Regions from separate parts of the Homo sapiens genome. Here region 2 is linked to region 1. The links come from fine-mapping of genetic effects on gene expression. A gene starts in region 1. The other region holds a variant in brackets. All regions are shown on one strand. Distances are from middle to middle.

What was found. PIP is the estimated chance that this variant, and not a neighbour inherited with it, causes the effect.
Region 2: its variant is fine-mapped to the expression of XPOT in whole blood (INTERVAL, PIP above 0.99).

The regions. Positions count from the first base shown.
Region 1 is chr12:64,395,605-64,412,937 of GRCh38, forward strand. XPOT (exportin for tRNA) reads left to right here and starts at 8,788. Exons shown (of 25, transcript NM_007235.6): 1 at 8,788-9,200; 2 at 14,358-14,491. The coding sequence starts at 14,432. It also overlaps the pseudogene RPS11P6. RefSeq lists enhancers at 8,363-8,412, 9,510-10,386 and silencers at 8,803-8,962, 9,293-9,402.
Region 2 is chr12:64,490,605-64,498,604 of GRCh38, forward strand. It overlaps TBK1 (TANK binding kinase 1), which reads left to right. Exons shown (of 21, transcript NM_013254.4): 14 at 4,879-5,000; 15 at 5,095-5,171; 16 at 5,763-5,802; 17 at 6,345-6,446; 18 at 6,559-6,655; 19 at 7,044-7,150; 20 at 7,364-7,435. Among named protein-coding and RNA genes, the nearest start is that of TBK1, 42 kb to the left of the region's middle. The variant G/C (reference allele first, on the strand shown) is at 4,593.

The DNA of each region.
Region 1 (17,333 bases):
TTGGTCAGGCTGGTCTTGAACTCCCCACCTCAGGTGATCCACCTGCCTTGGCCCCCAAAGTGCTAGGATTACAGGCGTGAGCCACCGCGCCCAGCCCTATACTTATTATTAATGGATACTGATCATTTAAATATCTACTATTAGTAATCTACTATTAGTAATTAGATGACATACAAAGGAAAGATGTCATTGTTATAAAAACCAGACAAATGATTTGGATTAATGTTTTCTTTCACTGAATAATACTCCAATGCTCTATTTTGCCTCTCAGGCTTCCTGCTGCACATGTACTTCCTGTAAGAGGAACTAATGGTTGGAATAGGACCAATAAAGGCAGCATTCCTGACCTGTTTTCCAACTTCTTTCTCTGCCAAGAAGCCCATTATGCATAAGCTTTTAGTGACAATGACATTCGGCTTTAAGAACAATGAGATGAAACACACAGAGAATCTGACACAGAACTCAGCAGCTATCAGCTCGTAATTATGTTCTTTTTGGTTCAACTCAATACATTTCACAAATATTTACTGAGAAATATTTATTAGCCATAAACAGAATCAGGATAACACTTACTTTCAATCTTTAAAAATTGTCTAGTTTTGGCCGGGCATGGTGGCTCACACCTGTAATCTCAACATCTTGGAAGGCCGAGACAGGTGGACCATGAGGTCAAGAGATCGAGACCATCTTGGCCAACATGGTGAAACTCCGTCTCTATTAAAAATACAAAAATTAGCTGGGCGTGGTGGTGCACCAGCTACTCAGGAGGCCGAGGCAGGAGAACTGCTTGAACCAGAAGGCGGAGGTTGCCGTGAGCCAAGATCGCACCACCACACTCCAGCCTGGTGACAGAGCGAAACTCCATCTCAAAATAATAATAATAATAATAATTGTCTAGTTTTTTCTCAGGCAGCCAAGAAGATGGTGGATTGAGACTGAGCATGCCTACCACAAGCAGCTGACCATCATTCAAAGCAAGAAGAGGGTACTGCTAAAGGAAACTGGCAAGAAGCAGCTCCTATGGTACTTACAAGAACATCGGTCTAGGCTTCAAGAGGTCCAAAGAGACTATTGAGGGCACCTACATTGACAAGGAATGCCTGTTCACTGGTAACGTCTCCATCTGAGGGCAGATCCTGTATGGCATGGTGACCAAGATGGAGATGCAGAGGACCACTGTCATCCAGAGAAACTATCTCCACTACATCCGCAAGTACAATTGCTTCGAGAAGTACCACAAGAACTTGTCCATGCACCTGTTCCTCTGCTTCAGGATGTCCAGATCAGCGACATTGTCACGTTGGATAAGTGCCAGTCCCTGAACAAGACGGTGTACTTCAATGTGCTCAAGGTCACCAAGGTCGCAGACATCAAGAAGCAATTCCAGAAGTTCTGAGGCTGAATGTCTGCCTGCTCCCCAAAATGAAATAAAGTTATTTTCTCATTCATACACACAAAAAATGACTAATAGGTAAGATAACCACACAAACTTAATACACAACAAAAACATATTAAAACATATTAATGCAATTAGAGATTTAAAAAAAAACTAGCAAGCTGTGTCAAAGATATGATCAAGCACAAACCTGGTTGAGGACATCTGGAAAGACCTCATGAGGGAGGTAAATTCGATAAATGCTCGAAGAGTGAATGAAACAATTTCTTTTTTACCTTTTATTATAGGCAGTTTTTAAATTTTTTGGCCAATTGTAGTGGCTAACACCTGTAATCCCAACACTTTGGGAGGCCAAGGCAGGTGGATAGCTTGAGCTCAGGAGTTCAAGACCAGCCTGGGCAACATAGTGAGACCTCATCTTTACTAAAAAAAGTTAGCTGGGCATGGTGGTGCCCACCTGTAGTCCCAGCTACTCCAGAGGCTGAGGAGGGAGGATTGCTTGAGCCCAGGAGGCAGAGGTTGCAATGAGCAGAGATTGGACCACTGCACTCCAGCCTGGGTGACAAAGCAAAAAAAAAAGTTTGTTTTTCTTTTTTTAATTTTCTGATTATCAAAGTAGTACATGGTCACTGTACAGAATTTTTTTTTTTTGAGACGGAGGCTCCCTCTGTCGCTCAGACTGGAGTGCAGTGGCATGATCTCAGCTCTCTGCAACCTCCGCCTCTTGGGTTCAAGCAATTCTCTGCCTCAGCCTCCCGAGTAGCCAGGATTACAGGCACCTGCCACCACGCGCAGCTAATTTTTGTATTTTTAGTAGTGACGGGGTTTCACCATCTTGGCCAGGCTAGTCTTGAACTCCTGACCTCGTGATCCACTCGCCTCAGCCTCCCAAAGTGCTGGGATTACAGGCATGAGCCACCACACTCAGCTGAGAATTTTTAAAAATCCAAAAACTTATAGAAAAGAAATGTCTGGAAGCCCATGATCAAGGTGCTGACAGATCCAGTGTCTTGTGAGGGCCTAATTTCTGGTTTGAAGATGGCTGTCTGTCTTCTTGTATCCTCACATGGTGGAAAGAGAGCTCTCTAGCTCCTCTTACAAGGGCACTAATCCTATTCATGAGGGCTCCACTCTCATGACCTGATTATCTCTCAAAGGCCTCACCTCCAGATACCATACAGTGAGTGAGGGTTTCAACATATAAATTTTGGGAGACACACACATTTAGTCCATTGCAGACATGTTAGAGTTGAGGTGCTGGTGAGACATGCAGGCATCTGTGAATGCAAGTTGGCAGTACAGAATATTAGGACCAGAAGTACAGAACTGGAAGTCATCTTCATAGAATTGCGTGTTGAAACTGCAGAAATAGATAATTTACTAAGGGAGCAGGTGTAGGCAAAGGAAAACCAGATGGCTAAGAACAAAGGCCTGGGGAAGAAAACATGTTAAGGGAGCAAAAGGATATGGTGAGGAAGACAAAGAGGAATGGTCAAAAAAGTAAAAGGAGTTTAATAATAATATAGGGTCAGAAGTCAAAAGAGAAGAGAATTCTGAAGAGGAAGGAAATAGTCAACAGAGAAGTTGAAAGAAAAGAATAAATGAATAAAAATGGTCCCACGACTGGAAAATTTGTAGGAGTTTTAGTTGAGTGACTTGGGAGTGAAAAAACAGATTACAAAAAGTGAAGGAAAGGAAGAGTACGTACAGGAAACGAATGTGATGTACTGGAGGCAAGAAATCTTGAATCAAGAATCCAAGGTTCTAGTCTACCATTTACCAGTTATGTAACTCGGGATACATTCCTTAAAATAGATCTACCTTAGTTTCCTCATCTGTAAATTTAAAATGGTGATGATGATACCTGCTCCATCCCTACAATGTTAGAGGAACAAATTAGAAGATACATGGAGGCACGGTGAAAACCATAAGGGACCACATATACAAATGTTATCTATCATAATTCTTTCAAGTACTTCAGCAATTGAAAGAAAAGGGAGACATGGGACAGGTACAAATAAAGTTTTGTCATTATAAGAAAGGGCCTTCTGAGCATATTTATAGGAAGAACAGACTCAGTACTATAGTCCTACACTGTCATCAATCCTAATGGACCTTCATTTGAGAGATAGGTTAGTGGCACACACTCTAGAGTCAGACTATGTGTGTTTCAATCCCAGCTCTTTTTTTTATTTTTTAGTTGTATTTCAATGACTACAAATGAATCCCAGTTCAGCTACTTAACTTCTATGCACTCCAGTTTCCTTGTCTATAAAATGGGGATAATAATAGTATCTATCTCCATAGAGTTGTGAGGATCGATGTATAAACACTTTAAAACTGTGTTTGATGGCCAGGCGCAGTGGCTCATGCCTGTAATCCCAGCACTTTAGGAGGCCAAGGCTGGCAGATCACTTGAGGTCAGAAGTTCGAGATCAGCCTGACCAACACGGAGAAACCCCATCTTTACTAAAAATACAAAATTAGCCGGGTGTGGTGGCATATCCCTGTAGTCCTAGCTACTCGGGAGGTTGAGGCAGGAGAATCGCTTGAACCTGGGAGGCAGAGGTTGCGGTGAGCCGAGATCGCGCCATTGCACTCCAGCCTGGGCAACAAGAGTGAAACTCTGTCTCAAAAACAAAAACAAAAACACAAAAAACAAAAAAAACTGTTTGGCAAACATGCTCAAAAATATTGGCAATTAATACATAAAAGCATTGTCATATGCAAGCATACATGCTTTATGTTAAAATTGAAACTACCATTACAAAATTATAACCAAGACAGTGAAAGAGATCTGATCTGACCAACTGCATTTTGCTTCTAAACTCCAAGCTGTCCTTGTTCATTCCTGGGCATAGGCTGAACTAACTTTGGAAGGATCTTAGTTTAGAGTTTATAGTTAAAACAAAGACAATAACAGCCTCTTCCCAAAACACCCTTCTTACCTGGGGACTAGACTACCTTTGTAGGACTAACAAATTAGCCATAAGATTAGAAATTATTGTTTAGAAATCATGCAGCTGGAGGCTACAAGATTCTGATCCTCCCCGAATTGTTCCTGGGGATAACACCACTATTGTAAAACCTACGATCAGTGCTTGAGATATTTTGCAAACCCTGTACTTGATAGATCAGCTGGCACCACTCAGATCAAAAAACTGGGTCATCTGATCTTGTGGCCGCCACCCAGGAACTGACTCAGTGCGCAGGAGGACAGCTTCAACTCTCTCTGATTTCATCTCTGATCCAACCAATCAGCACTCTCAATTCACTGACCTTCCCTCATCCATCAAATCAGCCTTAAACACTCTGATCCCTGAATGCTCAGGGAGACTGATTTGAATAATAATAAAACTCAGTCTCCCATACAGGGAGCTCTATGTGAATTACTCTTTCTCTATTGAGATTCCCCTATCTTGATAAATTGGGTCTGTCTAGGCAGCAGGGAACCTATTGGGCAGTTACAAAAGGAGCCTTTTGGGCAGTTACAAAATGATAGTGTTATTTGTCAACATGTTGATGACTAACATTTTCATCTGAGATGAGAAACTGCCCATCCCTTCATGGACGGAGGAGGCAGAATATGGAATGGTCAAATGTAATACCTCTCTTAGGTCCTCTTCAGTTGGATTCTACCAAGTGCTTCTTTATTTGTTCTTTTTGTTGTTGTTGTTGTTGTGGTTGTTGAGATGAAGTCTCACTCTGTTGCCCAAGCTGGAGTGCAGTGGTGCGATCTCAGCTCACTGCAACTCCACCTCCCGGTTCAAGCAATTCTCCTGCCTCAGCCTCCCGAGTAGCTGGGACTACAGGCATGTGCCACCACGTCCTGCTAATTTTTGTATTTTTAGTAGAGGCAGGGTTTCACTATGTTGGCCAAGCTGGTCTTGAACTCCTGACCTCCTGAACCACCCATCTCGGCCTCCCAAGGTGCTGGGATTACAGGCATGCATCACCACACCCGGCTTTTTTTTTTTGAGATGGAGTCTCACTGTGTTGCCCAAGCTGGAGTGCAGTGGCGCAATCTCGGCTCACTGCAACCTCCCAGGTTCATGCAATTCTCCTGCCTCAGCTTCCCAAGTAACTGGGACTACAGGCATGTGCCACCATGCCCGGCTAATTTTTTTTTTGTATTTTTAGTAGAGACGTGATTTTACTGTGTTGGCCAGGCTGGTCTCGATCTCTTGACCTTGTGATCCATCTGCCTCAGCCTCCCAAAGTGCCGGGATTACAGGCATGAGCCACCGCGCCTAGCCTCTTTATTTGTTCTGAAATAATATGAGTTTACAAAGTTGAAAGAGATTTCTACAATTCTAGGTATTTCAACTACCATAAACGAAAGAGCTAATGTTAGTAGATAAACTGTAGATAAACTGAAGATAGGCTTTGTATAACATTCAACATAAGAAGTAGCCATAAAATGAATTTACAAACAAAACAGCAAGTAAAGACATCTATAATACGATAGATTGAATTGCCATATTCTTTAGGATGAGGCCTGGAATATGCTGAACATACAGATTGCAGAGGCACTCAGCCCAAGATTAGTATTGGGCCTTCATACTCCACAGTTGATCATCACAGCTAATATAAGAATTCATGCAATGATTCAGTTATTGAGTTGAAACTAGCAGGCTGGCACTGTGCTAGACTCGAAAGATATACTGAAATAGGTAGGGCAGAAATCCTAGCCTGAGATTTTTTTTCTTAGAAATAACATTCATAGCAACTTGTGAAAAAAGCCATGCCTGTGTCTCCAGCAGCAGTGAAACAAGATGGTGGATCCCCTCACCATTAACCCCCATATGGAAAGGGTATATGTAATTCAGAAGGGATGTGTATTATGTCTGTTCTCACACTGCTATAAAGGAATGCCTGGGACTGGGTAATTTATAAAGGAAAGAGATTTAATTGACTCACAGTACCTCAGGGCTGAGGAGGCCTCAGGAAACTTACAATCATGGCAGAAGGGGAAGCAAACACATCATTCTTCACATGGTGGCAGGGGAGAGAAGAATGAGTGCCCAGCAAAGGGGGAAGCCCCTTATAAAACCATCAGATCTCATGAAAACTCACTATTACGAGAACAGGGTGGGGGAAACCAACCCCATGATTCAATTATCTCCACCTGATCCCGCCCATGACATGAGGGGATTATGGGAATTACAATTCAAGATGAGATTTGGGTGGAGACACAGCCAAACCACGTCAGGATGTGTAGACAACTGAAGTACAATAACATCAAGGCTGTTTTGACGTAAGGGCAGAATTTACAGTATGTGCTCTCACACAACTTGAAATCTTAAAGGCCTTCCGGGAACAGGGTTAATCAGAAACCAACATGGCAGATTAGTACCAAAGATGGAGTTACTTTAGCTTCCAGATTCCACCCATCAATCCAGCTCTTACAGTTTCACTCGCCCTCCTATTTGGAGATGGTCCCTGAGCTTTTAGGGAGGGTGGTTTCATATGATATAGCTTTAGCAGCAGCGCCCTAGCAGTGGAAAACAGATTGGGCCCAGAGAGATTCCAAATGAGGGAGATTCACAGGCTTTGTTGAATTATCTCTAGTCTTGAGAATACCATGACTTTGGTTTTCTCAGAAGTAAAACAAGAGATACTTCTTGTTTATAATTAATTTGAATAATTAATAATTTGAATAGTAGAAACATAATGCATGCAAGGATTACAATCAAAAGAAAATTTGTATGCCAGAACAACAAAGAACCTATTTCGTTGGGAAGCCAACTGAGAGCAGCGTGAAGAAAATTAAGGCCTGACACAGGGACTCACACTCGTAATTCCAACACTTTGGGAAGCTGAGGTGGGAGGTTCATTTGAGCCTGGGAGTTAGAGATCAGCCTGGGCAACAGAGCAAGTCCCCATCTCTACAAAAACAAACAAAAATAGCCAGGTATGATGGTATGCACCCGTAGTCCCAGCTCCTTGGGCGGCTGAGGCAGGAGGATTGCTTGAGCCCAGGAGGTCAAGGCTGCAGTGAGCTATGACCACTCTACTCCAGACTGGGTAACAGAGCGAGACCCTTTCTCTAAAAACAAGAAAAAATTAAAACCCAGTTCTCCTTTAGCGACATCTTGTAGCCACTAGCCTGACATTTTAAACACATAAATTAGAAACATGATGCAAGAGTGATTCAAGGTATTTTATATAGGAAATGCCTGGTGTAGTGTCTTGGACAGCTAAATAAAGGTAGCTGTTAAAACATTAGTTTTATTCTATGCTCTTACCATTCCTCCCTCTCCAAGTTTTGTTTGTAGTCTGTGGCAGCAACCTAGTCTGTATTTAGTACACATTGAATAATCAACAATGAAATGTAAATATTGAGCACATTGTGTGTCAAACACATGTATTAACTCAAACCTCACAGAAACCCTTTGAGGTCGGTACTATTAACAATCCCCATTTTACATACGAGTAAACTGAAGCATGGATAGACTAAAGTAAAGTGCCTGAGGTCAACTAGTGAGGAGGCGGAGTGGCAGTCAAGTCGAGGCAGCCTAAGCCTACACTGCCTCTATGTTGCATTAATAAATTAATAAATCTGTGACCAAATAAATGAAGTGACATTTAGTAGCATCGAAAGATCCCGTGAGTAGGACTTCCTAAGAATGCTCTCCTTCTTTTCATGGACAAAATTTTAGTCTGTTTAAAATAAATTTTGGACCGGACACCGTGGCTCACGCCTGTAATCCCAGTACTTTGGGAGGCCGAGGCAGGTGATCACTTGAGGTCAGGAGTTCGAGATCAGCCTGTCCAACATGGTGCAACCCTGTCTCTACGAAAAATACAAAAATTAGCTGGGTATGGTGGCGCGCGCCTGTCATCCCAGCTACTCAGGAGGCTGATGCAGGAGAACTGCTTGAACCCCGGAGGCGGAGGTTGCAGTGAGCCAAGATCTCGCCATTGCACCCCATCCTGGGCGACAGAGCGAGACTCCGTCTCAAAGAATAAATAAATAAATTAATTAATTAATTTTGAAAACCTGTCAGCACTCATCAGAGCTTTACACTGCTGTACTCGGGACACTTGGGGCCGTAGACAAGCAATTAAATTGACTCACACGTGGTTAGAACCACGTCATCCTGATTCGTGAATCCGTACTCTCAACTACTAGAAGCCCTTTGTGGAATGCTCGGGGCGAACCTGACGCTTGAGCTCTGACACCACGCAGACACAGCCGGGGATTTAGGAGCTGGGTAGGGACTCCTGGGCCGGATGCCTCATCCCGGCATGCACCTCAAGCCCCGGTGACCACGCCTTCCGGCGAGCGCCAGGGAGCGCGTGTGCGCCTCGCCGCCCGGAAGCGCCGGCCGCTCCCTGCATGCTGGGAGTTGTAGGCCTCCGGCGTCAGCCCGCGGGCTGCCGCCCGCACTCTCCAAGAGACTGCTGGCGCCGGCGCCCGCCCGCGCGGCACCGACGCGGGGAGCGCGCTTCGCGCTGACTCAGCGGCGGCGGCGGCTGCGGCGGCGGCGGCGGCGTTAGCCGGCCCTCGCGCTCTTTCCCTTCCTGGGGCGCCGACCCCGCCCGCTTGCTTGCTTGCTTGCTTGCCTGCCTGCCTGCCTGCCCGGCGCCACGCAAGAGAAGGTGCCAGGGGACGCAGAGCGACTAGAGGCGCGCGGTCCCGGCCAGCACCGTCTCTGGCGTTGTAGCTGCGGCCGTGGCGGAGGACTACGGCGACAAGGACGAGGGCCGCTCTCCCAGCTCTCTGCGTGCCGCGCCGCTCCGCTCCGCTGGCTGACCATCTGGAGTGCAGGCTGGGAGGCGGGATGGAGTGATAGGGAAGGTGACTCGGGGCTCGGGGGCAGCGGGACCGGGACCAGGTTTGGTCCGCGTGAGGCTTCGAGGAAGTTGGCCGGGGCGGACCGGCCCGGGGGAGTCCCGACGCCAGGGAGGGTGCAGGCTTGGGACCCTCTATGGCGGTGCACCCCCTGGCTGGGCGGACCGGGTGGGGGTGGGTACGAGCCGGGGCCGCCGCCGAGGAGCGCGTCCCGAGTGCGTGGCCGGCGGTTGCTTGGTGTTTCATCACCCGAATTGCCACGAGGCTTCCTTTAGGGGAGGGATCGGGGGAGGGATGGGAGCAAGGCTAGCAGAGGAGGGTCGGCATCGCCTGTGGTTCCGAAGCCCGTTAGTCATCGTTGTAGCGTTATCAACTGTGGAGACCTCAAACTTGATTCTTCCCCCACCCCTGGACAAAAAGGAAAAGTGTTATTTCTGTGCAGTAATTGGCCAGCACGGACGCTCCATTTCTTCTCAAACCTTCCTCACCATCCTGCAGGACTAGAGAAGCATGAGGTTTCCCTGTAACCAGAAAAACGAGTACTTTTTGAAAGTGCTAATTAGTTGTGGCGGGCGGGGGTTGGGGGAGAGTTACGTTTTATTAAACCGACTTGTCAGCGTGGTGTTAAAAGGCTGGAAAGATTCAGTCGTAGTATTTGAAACAGTCTTCAGTAGGTGTAGAGGAATTTTTCCAAATTGTTTGATTCTTAATGGCTATCCAGGAAAAGTTAAGGCTTAATATTTTAAGTATGTTGCTTGCCTTCCCCCAAGAACCTTTGCAAGATGCATAATTGTTTACCGTATTGAAACATTTTTTGGGGTTTTGTTGTTGTTGTTTTGAGACGGAGTCTCGCTCGGTCGCCCAGGCTGCAGTGCAGTGGTGCCATCTCGGCTCACTGCAACCTCTGCCTCCCAGGTTCAAGTGATTCTGCAGCCTCAGCCTCCCGAGTAGCTCTATTACAGGTGCGCCCCGCCACACCTGGCTACTTTTTGTATTTTTCGTAGAGATGGAGTTTCACCGTGTTAGCCAGGATGGTCTCGATCTCTTGACCTCGCGATCCGCCCGCCTCAGCCTCCCAAAGTGCTGGGATTACAGGCGTGAGCCACCGCGCCCGGCCTTCCACTGCATATTGATCGTCCAAATGCCTTCTATGTGGGGGATTCTTTCTGTAGTGACAACTGTTAACTAGTTTGTTTCCTTGGGTTTATTGGCTATGTTTTCCTTAGGGCCACTTCATTTTTCTCCCGATAGCTTCAGAGTGACTTGACCAAGCTTAAGCACTTTTTCTTTTTTTTGACACAGTGTCTCACTCTGTCGCCCAGGCGGGAGTGCAATGACACGATCTCCGCTCACTGCAACCTCCCCCTCCCGGGTTCATGCGAGTCTTCTGCCTCAGCCTCCTGGGTAGCTGGGATTACAGGCGCAGGCCACCATGCCCAGCTAATTTTTGTATTTTTAGTAGAGACGGCGTTTCACCGTGTTGGTCAGGCTGGTCTCGAACTCCTGACCTCGTGATCCGCCCACCTCGGCCTCCCAAAATGCTGGGATTACAGGCGTGAGCCACCGTGCCCAGCCAGCAATTTTTTTTAGATGGAGTTTCGCTCTCGTTGACCAGGCTGGAGTGCGGTGGCGCCATCTCAGCTCACTGCAACCTCCGCCTCCCGGGTTCAAGCGATTCTCCTGCCTCAGCCTCCCGAATAGCTGGGATTGCAGGCATGTGCCACCACACCCGGCTAATTTTTGTATTTTTAGTAGAGACGGGGTTTCTCCATGTTGGTCAGGCTGGTCTCGAACTCCCGACCTCAGTTGATCTGCGCCCCCCTCCCCTCGGCCTTCCTTAGTGCTGGGATTATAGGCGTGAGCCACCCTGCCTGGCCAGCATTTTTTTAAAAAGCCATAGCAAATTCAAGGAAGCTTTTATTGGACTTCTCAATCAGGGATTCTTAGAAACTCCGAAATCGTTTTTTCTCTCTGTGGGCATTTTTCAGGGGAATGGACATCAGATTTTCTTAACATTTAGGGGGCGAAGGGAACCAGTGCCTTTCTTTGTGTTTTTCTGTCTTTTAAAAATGCTGATCTGGTATAAGAATGCCCCAAGTCGTTTCCATTCCACATGTTCCTACCTCTGACTATAAACAACGTATTGAGGGCTCACTATGTGCCAGCCATGCTCTGCATACCTTATCTCTTTGAAGCCTTTACAACTTTATGAGGCATATGGTCTTTTTCCCATGTCATAGAAAGGGTTCTCTCAGGTTTTGTAAGTTGTCCAAGTGGCCCCAATTAAAAAATGACAAGATGGGGATACAAACCCAGGTCTTTGAAATCCAAAACCTATGCTCTACTATGTCCTAGGGACATAGTGATGGATAGTCAAGACAGTCCTTGCCCTTTAAGATTGTGAGAAATGGCCGGGTGGCTCACACCTGTAATCCCAGCACTTTGGGAGGCCGAGTCTGGCAGATCACCTGAGATTAGGGGTTCGAGACCAGCCTGGGCAACATGGTGAAACCCCATCTCTACTAAAAAATACAAAAATTAGCCGGGTGTGGTGGCTCACCCCTGTAATCTCAGCTATTTGGGAGGCTGAGGCAGAAGAATCACTTGAACCCAGGAGCCAGAGGCTGCAGTGAGCCGAGATCATGTCACTGCACTCCACCCTGGGCAACAGAGTGAGACTGTCTCAAAAAAAAAAAAAAAAGATTAATGAGAGAAAACTAGTAAGCTGGCAGTGACAGCATAGCAGTGCTTAGGATGGGGCATGTAATCCAATTTGGGAGAGTTGGACAATAGAGGTCAAAGAAGTGTTCTTGAAAGAGATGGCTTCTAAGTTGAATTTCAAAGGACAGCAGGGGTTAACCTACTAACAAGAAGAAAGAGCAGTGTGCAAAGATGAAAGGTAGAATACCACTGGAGAACTGCCATATGGTTCACTAGCACTGGCCTTGCTGACCTGGTGTGCAGAATAGTGAGGAGTTATTCAAAAGTGTTTGGATCGTAATCTGAGGGCAGTAGGGAGTTACACTGCCTTGAAGTCTGCAAGTACGTTATGAACCATAAGAGAAAGGGCTGAGCTGTCTTCAAAGCTCTCAGTCCATATCCTGAGTTATTTGATTCAGGCAGGCTCAGAGGAAAACAGAAAAGCCTATTGTAGGTATCCTGTAACCTGGACCTGAGCCTGGTTTTGCTATTCCCAAAAGGCCTTTCTCCCCTACCCCTGCTATTCCCAAAAGGCTTTTCTCCCCTACCCCCAATCCAATTAGTTTTTTGGCGTCTTTGGTTAACGGTAATTGAAACAAAAAGCCCCACAGCCTTTTTTTGTTTTTTTTGAGACAGAGTCTCGTTCTGTCACCCAGGCTGGAGTGCAGTGGCGTGATCCCAGCTCACTGCAACCTCCACCTCCTGGGTTCAAGCGATTCTCCTGCCTCAGCCTCCCAAGTAGCTGGGATTACAGGTGTGTGCCACCATGCTCCACTAATTTTTTTGTATTTTTAGTAGGGGATTTTACCATGTTGGCCAGGCTGGTCTTGAACTCCTGACCTCAAGTGATCCACCTGCCTCGGCCTCCCAAAGTGCTGGGATTACAGGCATGAGCCAGCACGCCTGGCCCCCCACAGCGTTTAATGGAAGTAGTAAGACTTGGTCTCCCTACCTTATAGGTCTTGAGAGAATAATATCATTTTTCACATCATTTAGAGTTTGTTCCATGTTTGCTCAAATGAATATGCATTCTATCAAAAACTAGGATGCCTTTTGCAGCTTATTATTTGAGAATGTTGGAACCTATATTGTGAAGAAGTGGATTACCTCTCAGAGATTAAAAAAAATCCTTAAATAAGAGTAGTCAGTGTTAAGTCATTTGTGGATTTTTTTTTGTGTGTTTTGTTTTTTTTGAGATGGAATCTCACTCTGTTCTCCAGGCTGGAGTGCAGTGGCGCAATCTTGGCTCACTACAACCTCTGCCTCCTGGGTTCAAGCGATTCTTGTGCCTCAGTCACCCGAGTAGCTGGGATTACTGGCATGTGCCACCAAGCCTGGCTGATTTTTGTCTTTTTAGTAGAAACAGGGTTTCACCGTATTGGTCAGGCTGGCTTGAACTCCTGACCTTAAGTGATCTGCGCACCTCAGCCTCCCAAAGTTCTCAGATTACCGGTGTGAGCCACTGTAGCTGGCTGGTTTGTGGGTTTTTGTATCTACTATTGAAAAACTTTTTTTTTTTTGAAATTTTTAGAATTGGCTGGCAAGAGCAGAGATCTGTAAAATGCAAAACTAAGTCCATTGCTCAAAAGCTAAATGACTGGTTTTTCATTATCCTGTTCCTTTCATTAGACTTCTGTCATAGTACTTAGTAAACACTCCAAAGGATATTGAACTCTGAGGTCAGCCATTCTAATGTTTTAAAGAAGGTTTGTGATATTTGTATCTGGAAGTAGACAAATTATTATAATTACTGTAATAGTCTGCATTTGTCATTTTTATACTTAACTGCAGTTGCACAATTGCATTTTTAAGTACTAGAGATAAGTAAAACACTGCATAAATTAGGTACTTCTACTATTTAAAGTAGAAAATGATTACTTTCTATACCTTATTAAGAAGATCTTGAAGACTAAGAAAGCTTGAGGACCTTTATGGCATACTTTAAGATTTTTAGGGGCCAGGTGGGGTGGCTCATGCCTGTAATCCCAGCACTTTGGGAGGCCAAGGCGGGCGGATCACGAGGTCAGGAGATCAAGACCATCCTGGCTAACACGGTGAAACCCTGACTCTACTAAAAATACAAAAAATTAGCCCAGCGCGGTGGCGGGCGCCTGTAGTCCCAGCTACTCGGGAGGGTGAGGCAGGAGAATGGCGTGAACCTGGGACACGGAGCTTGCAGTGAGCTGATACGGTGCCACTGCACTCCAGCCTGGGCAACAGAGTGAGACTCCGTCTCAAAAAAAAAAATCAGATTTTTAGGAATTACACATTAGTGGAGTAGTTAGCAGAGCCCATTTTTCTGAGAATTAGGCTCTAACTTTTAGTTGTAATTTAGATAAGTTCCAAAATAAGTTTTTAAACATTTAAGCTTCTTTGCATGATTTTATCCATTTACGTTATTCAGGATAAGCATCTATTTGTTTATCAAGTAATGTTTTCTTTCAACTTTGTTTTTTGTGGCAGATGTTTATAAATTCTTCTGTGGGATCAGAGGGCACGCCTATTACAACCAGAAAACTACAAGTATAACAGCGAGGATGGATGAACAGGCTCTATTAGGGCTAAATCCAAATGCTGATTCAGACTTTAGACAAAGGGTAAGTTACTCTGCTGAATCATTTTTTAATCATGTCACCACAGATTGGCATTAGAGGACTTGAATAAAAATGCACCTGGCAAAAGTTTACTTTGGGTAGAAATGAACAGAAACAAAAAAATTTGAGGTATTTGAATATATTTTGAATATAGAAACAGTGAGTGTTGTGATTTATTTTCTGTTTACTTGGCCAAACAAAAGTATTAAAATCTCATATGATTCAAGGCAGATCTTTATGCAACATCAGTCATTATTTCTAATTATTTAAAAATTGTAATGCAAAGGATTCGTTTAAGAGACTTTCCATAGCAGCAGACATGTGTATTTTATTTTCTCTTTCCTTGGCTTGATCTATACAAGCTGTTTTAACACTTACCTTAATGATTTTTTTTTTATTTTAATTTTTTTCTAGAGATAGGGTTTCACCATCTTGCCCAGGCTGGTCTCGAACTCCTGAGCTCAAGCGATCTGCCCACCTCAGTCTCCTAAAATGCTAGGATTATAGGCATGAGTCACCCTGCCCGGCCACATTAGTGATATTTAACTTTCTTGTTATTTGGTCTAGGCAGACATAAATAAGCAGTTATGATAGGTTATGTCTTAAGTAAAATGGTTACATGACAAGAATCCATTATAAAGTGCTGGGATAGTTGGATAAATGTAAACAATTAAATATAATGTAGCCTACAACTATAATCATGACTATAGCTGAATGATAGAAAAATATAAAGAATGAGCCTATAATTAATTTTTTTTAAAGACGTGGGCATTTGGAACTATAGGGTAAGTGGAAAGGAAAGAGGCATTTTCTTTTTACTTTTCATAGCAAAGAATACTTTTTATAAATGAGCTAAATGAGGTTAACAATCTCACTAAAAATTATAGCAGTTTTTATTCTTATTTTAAGAAAAAAATCTTTTAAAGCAGTAAAAAACAATCCCAACTAGTTTCTAATACAGTACCATGTGCATGTCTCTGCTACTAAATAAGTAACGAGCCCTTCAGATACAGGAAAATAATAGGAATTGAGATTTAAGTATCTGGCTAATTACAAGATACCTATCAAACAAGTTAGGACATCAAAAGACATTTAAAATCCATGTCTTCTGTGTGTAAACAAATCTTTCTTGTCATAGGGTTTTATGCTACCTACCTTCAAACATAGTTGAAGTATCATAGATCTTTACCTTTAGTCTAGCTTGGTATTGCATGCTTGTAATTAAAAGCCTTTGACTGTATGTTTAGTTATTAAATGGCCTTTACTGTTATTTTTATGTGCCTCTTGAAATCTTTCATTTCTTAAGTTCCAGCATCCAATTTTTGGATGAAAGAGGCATTTTCTTTGCCTCTTAAGTTCCAGCATCCAATTTTTTTAAATGTGCCATGATTTCTTTTTCAGAAAATTAAAACCAATACATTATTAGTGGTTTTAATACAGAAGCTCTGCTTTTTGTCAGTAAAAATGGGTTCTGTCACATACGTGTTTTAAGCATCCAGGTCCAGGCATAATTCAGTATCCATTTAGCCAATCTGAATAACAATTTATTAGGATGAAAGGGAAGAAATCTTAAAGTGAATTCTGAAAGCCCTTTTGTTGCAGTTCGGGAGTAGTGGAAACTTAATTCAGTTTGGTGGTGAGAAGAATGACTGTCTGCCAACCCCAATTGCTCAGTTGTCTATCTGTAATTCTCTGTTTTTTACATGGGCAATAAAAGTTGAACTGACTCTTGTCACATAGAGTCAGTCAACCATTAGAAAAAAGGTATGGGGTAGAACTAGGTGGTGAAAGCTAGGACTTGTTTGTCAGTGTTGTAGAATTTTGTTTTTTTAATTGTTAGTAATGCATAGATTCAGAATACAAAGGCTTTGTTTAAAAACTAAAAACTTCCACGTTATCTCTCCTCTCCTTCCTCTCACCCCTGCCCCGCCCCCCGCCCTTTTTTTTTTGAGACAGAGTCTCACTCTGTTGCCCAGCCTGGAGTGGAATGGCACCATCTTGGCTCACAGCAACCTCCAACTCCCGGGTTCAAGAGATTCTCCTGCCTCAGCTGGGATTAGAGTAGCTAGGATTAGAAGCACACACCACCACGCCTAGCTAATTTCTGTATGTTTGGTGGAGACGGGGTTTCACCATGTTGGTCAGGCTGGTCTCAAACTCTTGACCTTGTGATCTCCCTGCCTCAGCCTCCCAAAGTGCTGGGATTACAGGCATGACTCACCGCGCCCAGCCTCCTCCTTTTTAAAAAATAAAACACTCGTCTTTGGCTTAAAACCTGTTATTATTTAAAGAAAATGGTATGTCATGACATTTCTAGCAGCTGAAACCACCTCTCCCCTCTTTTGTAAGTGAAATATTAGGTGGTAATGCAACATACATGATTAACTTCTACCTTGTCCTCTGGCCTCTGAGATATTCCTAAAGAATACCCTATGTTTCATGGACTGCTGTTAGAAACAACTAAGCTAGTACTATCTTTTATAGCTGCCTGTGTTCTTATAGTCTTAACTTCTAAAGAGAGACATTATTTACTCTGGGCTGTTTTCCAATACCAACAACCAACTCTCTTGATTTCTGTGGACACCAACTGGGTGTCCTACAAATCAATTCAATTCTGACACTACCAGGATTAGCATCACATCCCACAAGTTATGGGCTCGGTCTTACAAACCGCCCCCACTTAAGACACTAATTGAGTCCAGAACCTCTCATATTTCTGATGATGGAGTAGCCTACAGAACTTAGAAAAACAGTTGACTTTCTTGTGCTGATGAAGGATCCACCTCATGAGCAGCCACATGGAAGCGATGCATAGGGCAAAGTATAGGGGAAGGGGCACAGAGCT
Region 2 (8,000 bases), 90 kb after region 1:
ATGCAGTTGAATGTAAAGTGCTTGAGCTTGTTTAGAAATAGATTTAAATTAGGCTGGGCGCGGTGGCTCATGCCTGTAATTCCAGCACTTTGGGAAGCCAAGGCAGGTGGATCACCTGAGGTCGGGAGTTTGAGACCAGCCTGGCCAACATGGTGAAACCCCGTGTCATTAGCTGCGTGTGGTGGTGGGCACCTGTAATCCCAGCTACTTGGGAGGCTGAGGCAGGAGAATTGCTTGAACCCAGGAAGCGGAGGTTGTAGTGAGTCGAGATCACACCATTGCATTCCATCCTGGGTGACAAGAGTGAAACTCCATCTCAAAAAAAAAAAAGATTTAAATTAGAAAAATATTATCAGATTTTTTTCTAAAATAAAAAAGGAAAGAAAGATTTGAGGTCTTCAAGGCAGTAATTACTTCTATAGCTAGAAAAAGAAATTAGGACACAAGTCTCTACTCTGCTGAAAAATACAATAGAACTTCTGGGAGTCTCTGAATCTCTTATTAACATGTATTATAGAAGTGCGCAGGTTTATATATTAGTAATCAGTGAGAGCTGATTACTACTCCCAGACCTGCCCCATTTACCTGCCTACTCATGACTGGCTACTTAAGCAAGGCCTTTTAATTCTTTGCATCCTTGGTTTCTTTTTCTCTAAAATCAGCAATTTCTTACCCTGCCCGTCTTATGGGTTGTTGTACTAATTAAATGAGATAAATAAAAATACTGTACTCTTGGCTGGGTGTGGTGGCTCACACCTCTAATCCCAGCACTTTGGGAGGCTGAGTCGGATGGATCACTTGAGTCCAGGAATTCAAGACCAGCCTGGGCAACATGATGAAACCCCATCTCTACAAAAAATACAAAAAAATTAGCCAGGCATGGTGGTGCATGCCTGTGGTCCCAGCTACTTGGGAGGCTGAGACAGGAGGATCACTTGAACCGAGGAGGCGAACGTTACAGTGAGCCGAGATCGTGCCACTTGCACTCCAGCCTGGGTGACAGAGCCGAGACTGTCTCAAATAAATAAATAAATAAATATATTGTAATCTTGCAAGCTTTTAGTATTCGAAGTATTCTTTCATAAAATGGATGTTAAATTAAAAGTGAAAGGAACTTGATACGATATCCTTTTCACTTTCCAGCTTAGGCTGATGTTTGTTTCTTTTCCTCAGTTTTAGATCTCAAACAGTGGTTTTCAAAATATGAGTAATGAACAACTAGTAGGTTATGAAGTTGGGTGCCTTGTAATCAGCAATGTATTTTTCAGTGGAACAGAATAGAAAATGTCAGAATGTGTCACATATAATAAGGAAATCATTGTTTATGAAACTTTGATTCAGGTATATACACACTTTAAATGTTACTGAGTTAAAACAGTGAGTTTCTTACTATGAGTTGTGGTCAGGAAAGTTTGAAAACCATAGCTATAGAATAAGGTGATTAAAAGTCAGAAAGCACAAAATAGTCTTCCCCAGTATTTGTCTGCATTTAAATATAGGCAGCCATATTGCTGTCAGTGTTTTATATTCTTCTCTGTTTTCACCTTAGAACATGATTTACCTGCTCATAGGCCTAGTGGACATTTATTTCCAGGGCCAGCATCGTTTGAGCACTTTAAATCAAAATTAATATATTTTCTTTTGGGGATCTCAAAATGTTTCTCATTTTTATGACATTCCTGTGAGATTAAGATTTCTTTTTATTTATTCATTTATTTTTAAACAGAGTTTCCCTCTTGTTGCCCAGGCTGGAGTGCAGTGGCGCGATCTTGGCTCACTGCAGCCTCCGCCTCCTGGGTTCAAGCAATTCTCCTGCCTCAGCCTCCCGAGTAGCTGGGATTACAGGCATGTGCCACCACACCCAGCTAATTTTGTATTTTTAGTAGAGAAGTGGTTTCTCCATGTTGGTCAGGCTGGTCTGGAACTCCCAACCTCAGGTGATCCGCCCGCCTTGGCCTCCCAAAGTGCTGGGATTACAGGCATGAGCCACCTTGCCTAGCCAAGATTAAGATTTCTTATGAGAAAGCATAGATGACTAAATAGCTTGAGGTAATGGAGTCTTATGACATCAGGACTTCTCACTTCAAGCCAATTACTTTTCCGTAGATATCATTTTTTCTCTTTTTCTTTTTTTTTTGAGATGGAGTCTCACTCTTTCGCCAGGTTGGAGTGCAATGGCGTAATCTCGGCTCACTGCTACCTCCACCTCCTGGGTTCAAGTGATTCTCCTGCCTCAGCCTCCTGAGAGCTGGGACTTCAGGCGCCCGCCACCACGTCCAGCTAATTTTGTTTGTTTTTTTTTTTTTTTTTGGAGACGAAGTTGCTCTTTTGCCCAGGCTGGAGTGCAGTGGTACAGTCTCGGCTCACCACAAGCTCCGCCTCCTGGGTTCACGCCATTCTCCTGCCTCAGCCTCCCGAGTAGCTGGGACTACAGGCTTCCACCACCAGGCCCGGCTAATTTTTGCATTTTTAGTAGAGACGGGGTTTCACCGTATTAGCCAGGATGGTCTCAATCTCCTGACCTCATGATCTGCCCACGTCGGCCTCCCAAAGTGCTGGGATTACAGGCGTGAGCCACTGCGCCCGGCTTCGTAGTGGAGACCTTACAGACATTTTTCCCACCACAAAAGTAAAATTTATAAGTAGAAAAAAATACCACATATATTATGCACCCAAAAAATGATGCTTAAAAGTTTTGTCCATTGCCCTGCAGCAGTGCTTCTCAGAGTGGCTCCTGGGCCACAGGTCGCAGTGGTTCACACCTGTAATCCCAGAACTTTGGGAGGCTGAGGTAGGCGGATCACTTGAGGCCAGGAGTTCGAGACCAGCCTGGCCAATATGGTGAAACCGTGTCTCTAATAAAAATACAAAAATTAGCCGGGCGTAGTGGCAGACGCTTGTAATCCCAGCTACTGGGGAGGCTGAGGCAAGAGAATCACTTGAACCTGGGAGATGGAGGTTGCTGTGAGCCGAGATCATGCCACTGTCCTCCAGCCTGGGCGACAGAGACCCTGTCTCAAAAAATAAAAAAAAAGTAAAGAAGAGTGGCTCCTGGGCCAGCAGCTTCAGCCTCACATGGGAACTTATTAGAAATGCACATTTTGGGACCCCACCTCGGATGTGTTGAGTCAGCAACTCACTGGCAGAACCCAGCAAAGGCCCTTTTTAATAAGCCTTCCAGGTGATTCTCATGCTGCTAAAATCTGGGTAATCACTGTTTTCATTTTCTTTTATATGTATTATTAAATGACTGTTACTCTACAAACATATGGTTGTTATTTTTACTTTTTGGATACCATTATAGTGTAGGCATTTCCCAGGTTTTTTTGGTAACACCATTTTCTTAATGATATGATGTTGCAGCCAGTGGATTTATTACAGTCTTACTTATTATTGCTCTACTGTTGGTCCTTTAGTTTGCTTTTCACTCTTCTATGTAATGCTGTAAGAAATGACTTTTTCCATAAACTATTTTCCATATATTGGATGTATAATTTAACACATTCTAAACATTAATGTTAAAACAGACATAAAGCATAAAAACCGAGATATATATTTGATCATATAAAAATTTAAGCTGGGCACAGTGGCTCATACCTGTAATCCCAGCACTTTGGGAGGCCAAGGTGGGGGTAGACTGGTTGAGCTCAGGGGTTCAAGACCAGCCTGGGAACATGGTGAAACCCCAACTCTACCAAAAAAAAAAAAAGAAAAAAAAGAAAAAATTAGCAAGACGCAATAGCACGCACTTGTAATCCCATCTACTCAGGAGGCTTAAGGTGAGAGGATGGCTTGAACTCAGGAGGCAGAGGTTGCGGGAGCTGAGATTGCACCACTGCACTCCAGCCTAGGCGACAGAATGAGACTCTGTTTCAAAAATAAAATAAAAATTTAAGATCTGTACATGTTTAAAAAATGTTAGAATGCAAATAAGTTGGGAAAATGTGATAAAGGGTTTTTTATAAAAAATAACTCATACAAATTGATAAGGAAAATAGTCAATCTGCAAAAAATAGATGAGCACAGAACATTTAGAGACAATTTATAAATGAAGAAAATATATCTGGTGAAAACACTCTTGAAAAAATGCTCAAATCCAATAGTAAGAAAAAATTGCATAACAGTAAGATACTATTTTTGTCTTTCAGATTATCAAGGCTTAAAAAATTATAATGCCAGTGCTGACAAGAGTGTGGTTTAAAGGGCATCCTTATTTGTTGCTAGTGGCAATGTCAGCTACTACTGACAACATTATTTGAAAGGCAATAGTGTGTATCAGGACCTTTAAAATATATGGACATATTTATCCTTTAAGTCTAACCTTCATCCTTTCTTCATAAGTTTTACAAATACTGTATGCATTTCTGTGGTAGGTAAGTGATAAACTTACTAAGCTTAAAATGAACAGAATCTTAGATGAGGTTTCTTTTCATTTTCTGTTTTTAAGAGGAGTTGCTTTGGTTTGGCCTCTAAACAAGAAGAGCACAAATCTTGCTGCCTACACAGTTGATATTTGGAACTATTCTAGTGGTTCTATTTAATTTTCAAAACCGGGTTATGAAATGGAGAATTAACCACTTTTTACAGATAAG[G/C]AAACAAGATTAGAAGTATTTTACATGTGGTTTTAGAAGGGTGTTTACTGAATGAACTGTTTTATAAGATGTATTACTGCTGGTCTCATGTTTTATTATCATACTGTACCCCTGGTGGAAATCAACCTAAGAAACTCTTTTGTATTTAAAAATGGAAATAATTACTGTGCCTTTGAATTGAAGTAATCTACAAAAGAAATGTGGTCCAGACTTTAGACTTTGTTGGGACTGTGATGATCATTTCTGGCTTTTGGCAATCTGGATCTGAACCTTTGGTTTTATTTAGCTTTCCAGTTCTCAGGGAACAATAGAAACCAGTCTTCAGGATATCGACAGCAGATTATCTCCAGGTGGATCACTGGCAGACGCATGGGCACATCAAGAAGGCACTCATCCGAAAGACAGAAAGTAGGTTATAGCTTTATGCGTAGTTTCTGCTCTTATTAATGTCCTTTTTCACATTGACTCAGTTAATTTATTTGAGTTTTTCTTCCTTAAATAGTGTAGAAAAACTACAAGTCCTGTTAAATTGCATGACAGAGATTTACTATCAGTTCAAAAAAGACAAAGCAGAACGTAGTAAGTAAAATTTGCTATTTGTTAATTTAATAAATCCCTCTTAGTAATTAGTTATAATTCAGTTAAATTAATTTGGTATATCTGTAAGGGTAGCTTCTTAAGCTGTTTTTTTCAGAGATGTGATTCTGTCAGGAAAAAGGTTGATTGTGTTAAAAAAAAAAAAAAAAACTATCCTTAAAATCAACCTTTTGAATACTTTAAATCAGGGTCATGAACACCAGAACCTCTAAAGGCCAGGCAGGTAACAGAAAGGAATGAGATTGGCCAGTGGGGACTCATCTACAGGGGAGAGCCACTACTCATATTCACCAAAGGTATTGCCCAATCTTCCCATTTCTCAAAAAAAGCTAGAAATACAGAATTTGTTAGAAATACCTTGATTTTTAAATGTTAACTGTTAATTGTTTTTTACATTGTTATTTACAGACCAAATAAAAGCATCTGTGGGCCATAAGTAACCAATGAGCCACAAATCTATGACATCTGCTTCAGACTCTTAGCCTTTTTGAAGCAATAATCTCAAAAGAAAATACATTGTGTATAATATTATGATTCTATATTAACAACAGTAATATATTTTCCTATTTCTAGGATTAGCTTATAATGAAGAACAAATCCACAAATTTGATAAGTAAGTATCCAGATTATGTTTAATAGTTATTTTTGGTGCTATTTTGGTTATCTTTATTAATATGATTCTTCTTAAAGTTGAAATTAATTACAATTTAAAAATACATTTTAATCTTGATTTTACAGGATTGTTACAATATGTAGACATTTTTGAGGTTCACACATCTGCTCCCTAATTGGGAAGTTACCATGATGGGAGAAGGAGGGGGGAGAAAGATTACCATTTCAGTCAGTCAGCTTCTGCCTCATATGCTCTGATTACAGAAGTACAGATAATACAGCACATAGGCAAGGGCAGACTTAACTACCGTCTTAATTTTAACCGCATTCAATAGGCATTTTTTTTACATCCATTTTGAACCTTCTCTTTATCTTCTTGCTGCTATAATGTCTATCTTAGAAACGTTTACTTTCTCCTGTAAATATTCTAAAGCCACAACAATCATTATAGGAAAGATACATTTCATATATTTGAAAATTTCTAAATATTGAAAGTAGAAACAGTGACATTGGTTTAAGCCTCTGATTATTTCTAAATTACAGGCAAAAACTGTATTACCATGCCACAAAAGCTATGACGCACTTTACAGATGAATGTGTTAAAAAGTATGAGGCATTTTTGAATAAGTCAGAAGAATGGATAAGGTGAGTAAACTTCTTTTGGAGTGATTAGTGGTTGACTGCACAATATAAATGTATATTTGAAGTAAGAATGCTTCACTAGACTGCATATCAATTGATTCTTTTTGGTTTTCAGAAAGATGCTTCATCTTAGGAAACAGTTATTATCGCTGACTAATCAGTGTTTTGATATTGAAGAAGAAGTATCAAAATATCAAGAATATACTAATGAGGTAGGTACAGCTGTCAAGGAAAAATTAAAATTCTTCTCAGTTTATAACTGATAGTGATTGACAAGGGAGAAATGGGATAGAATGTGCCTACATTCAGTTCCACCCACCAATTTTTAATATGTATTTTGAGCCAAGTTTTAAGAATGTAGATGTTTTACAACTAAAAACAGCTGATAAACCATCCTTTTATCAACTGTATGAAAAGTTTCTTTCTTAAAAGGGTGTTGATTTAAGTATTGTATCATCGATAGTTTTGAAATCAAAATTTAAAGTTTTTTTAAAGGACTTATTAAAAGCTGTAACACTTGATGTCAGATCTGTAGTAAGTACTTTTGTTCTGTGATTAATGTGGGGTTTTTTTCTTTTTTTTTTTTTTTTGATGTTTCAGTTACAAGAAACTCTGCCTCAGAAAATGTTTACAGCTTCCAGTGGAATCAAACATACCATGACCCCAATTTATCCAAGTTCTAACACATTAGTAGAAATGACTCTTGGGTAAGAAACTCATCATTTGGAAACTGTAGTGTTTCCATTTGCTTTCATTGCAGTTTGTGCTTTTGCTCTTACATTTTGAAATTTTTTATGTTTGTTGTAATACAATGTTTAATAAGGTTATCTATTGACCAGTTAAAAGAAAATAAAACATAAACATCATTCTAAAACATTTGCATACTGTTTTTGAGCAAAGGTGCTTGTTTATTTTATTAGTATGAAGAAATTAAAGGAAGAGATGGAAGGGGTGGTTAAAGAACTTGCTGAAAATAACCACATTTTAGAAAGGTGAGTAATGCAAAAATAATTACTGTGATTTTCTGTGCAATTGAGTTCATTCACATCTGTACTTATATCTTCCTGTATCAATAGATTCAGCAGTGGTAAAGGGTCATAAAGTCAGAACTCATGTTTTTCTCTCTATGATTGTGTATCTGTGATGCCTTTTAATGGTTGATTAGTTCCATTTTATAGAAGCACTGGTTAATCGAATTACTTATTTGAATCAGTTTGTAAAGATCAAACTCTATTTACATTATTTTTATAACTTAATTCATTGGAATCATAATTTTCAATTTGGTGAATCAGAGTTGCTTTTTAAGATACCAGCACTTTGGTGCTGAGTAGCTTACGGGGTCCTCTGCACACCTCCTTGCAGGTGAAAGCCACAGGTAAATGCAGTACTTTGAGGAGTTAGGTGTCTGCTTATTATCTGCAAAATCCTAATAGATAAGGCCAAAGAGATTTGAAAGCCTGCAGAGGCAATAAAGCAATTTTTGGATGGCAGTTTTCCTTATCCTGATTCCTCAGAGAAATTAAGTCATATTTGGCTCTGTAATAGAACCTTTTCTTT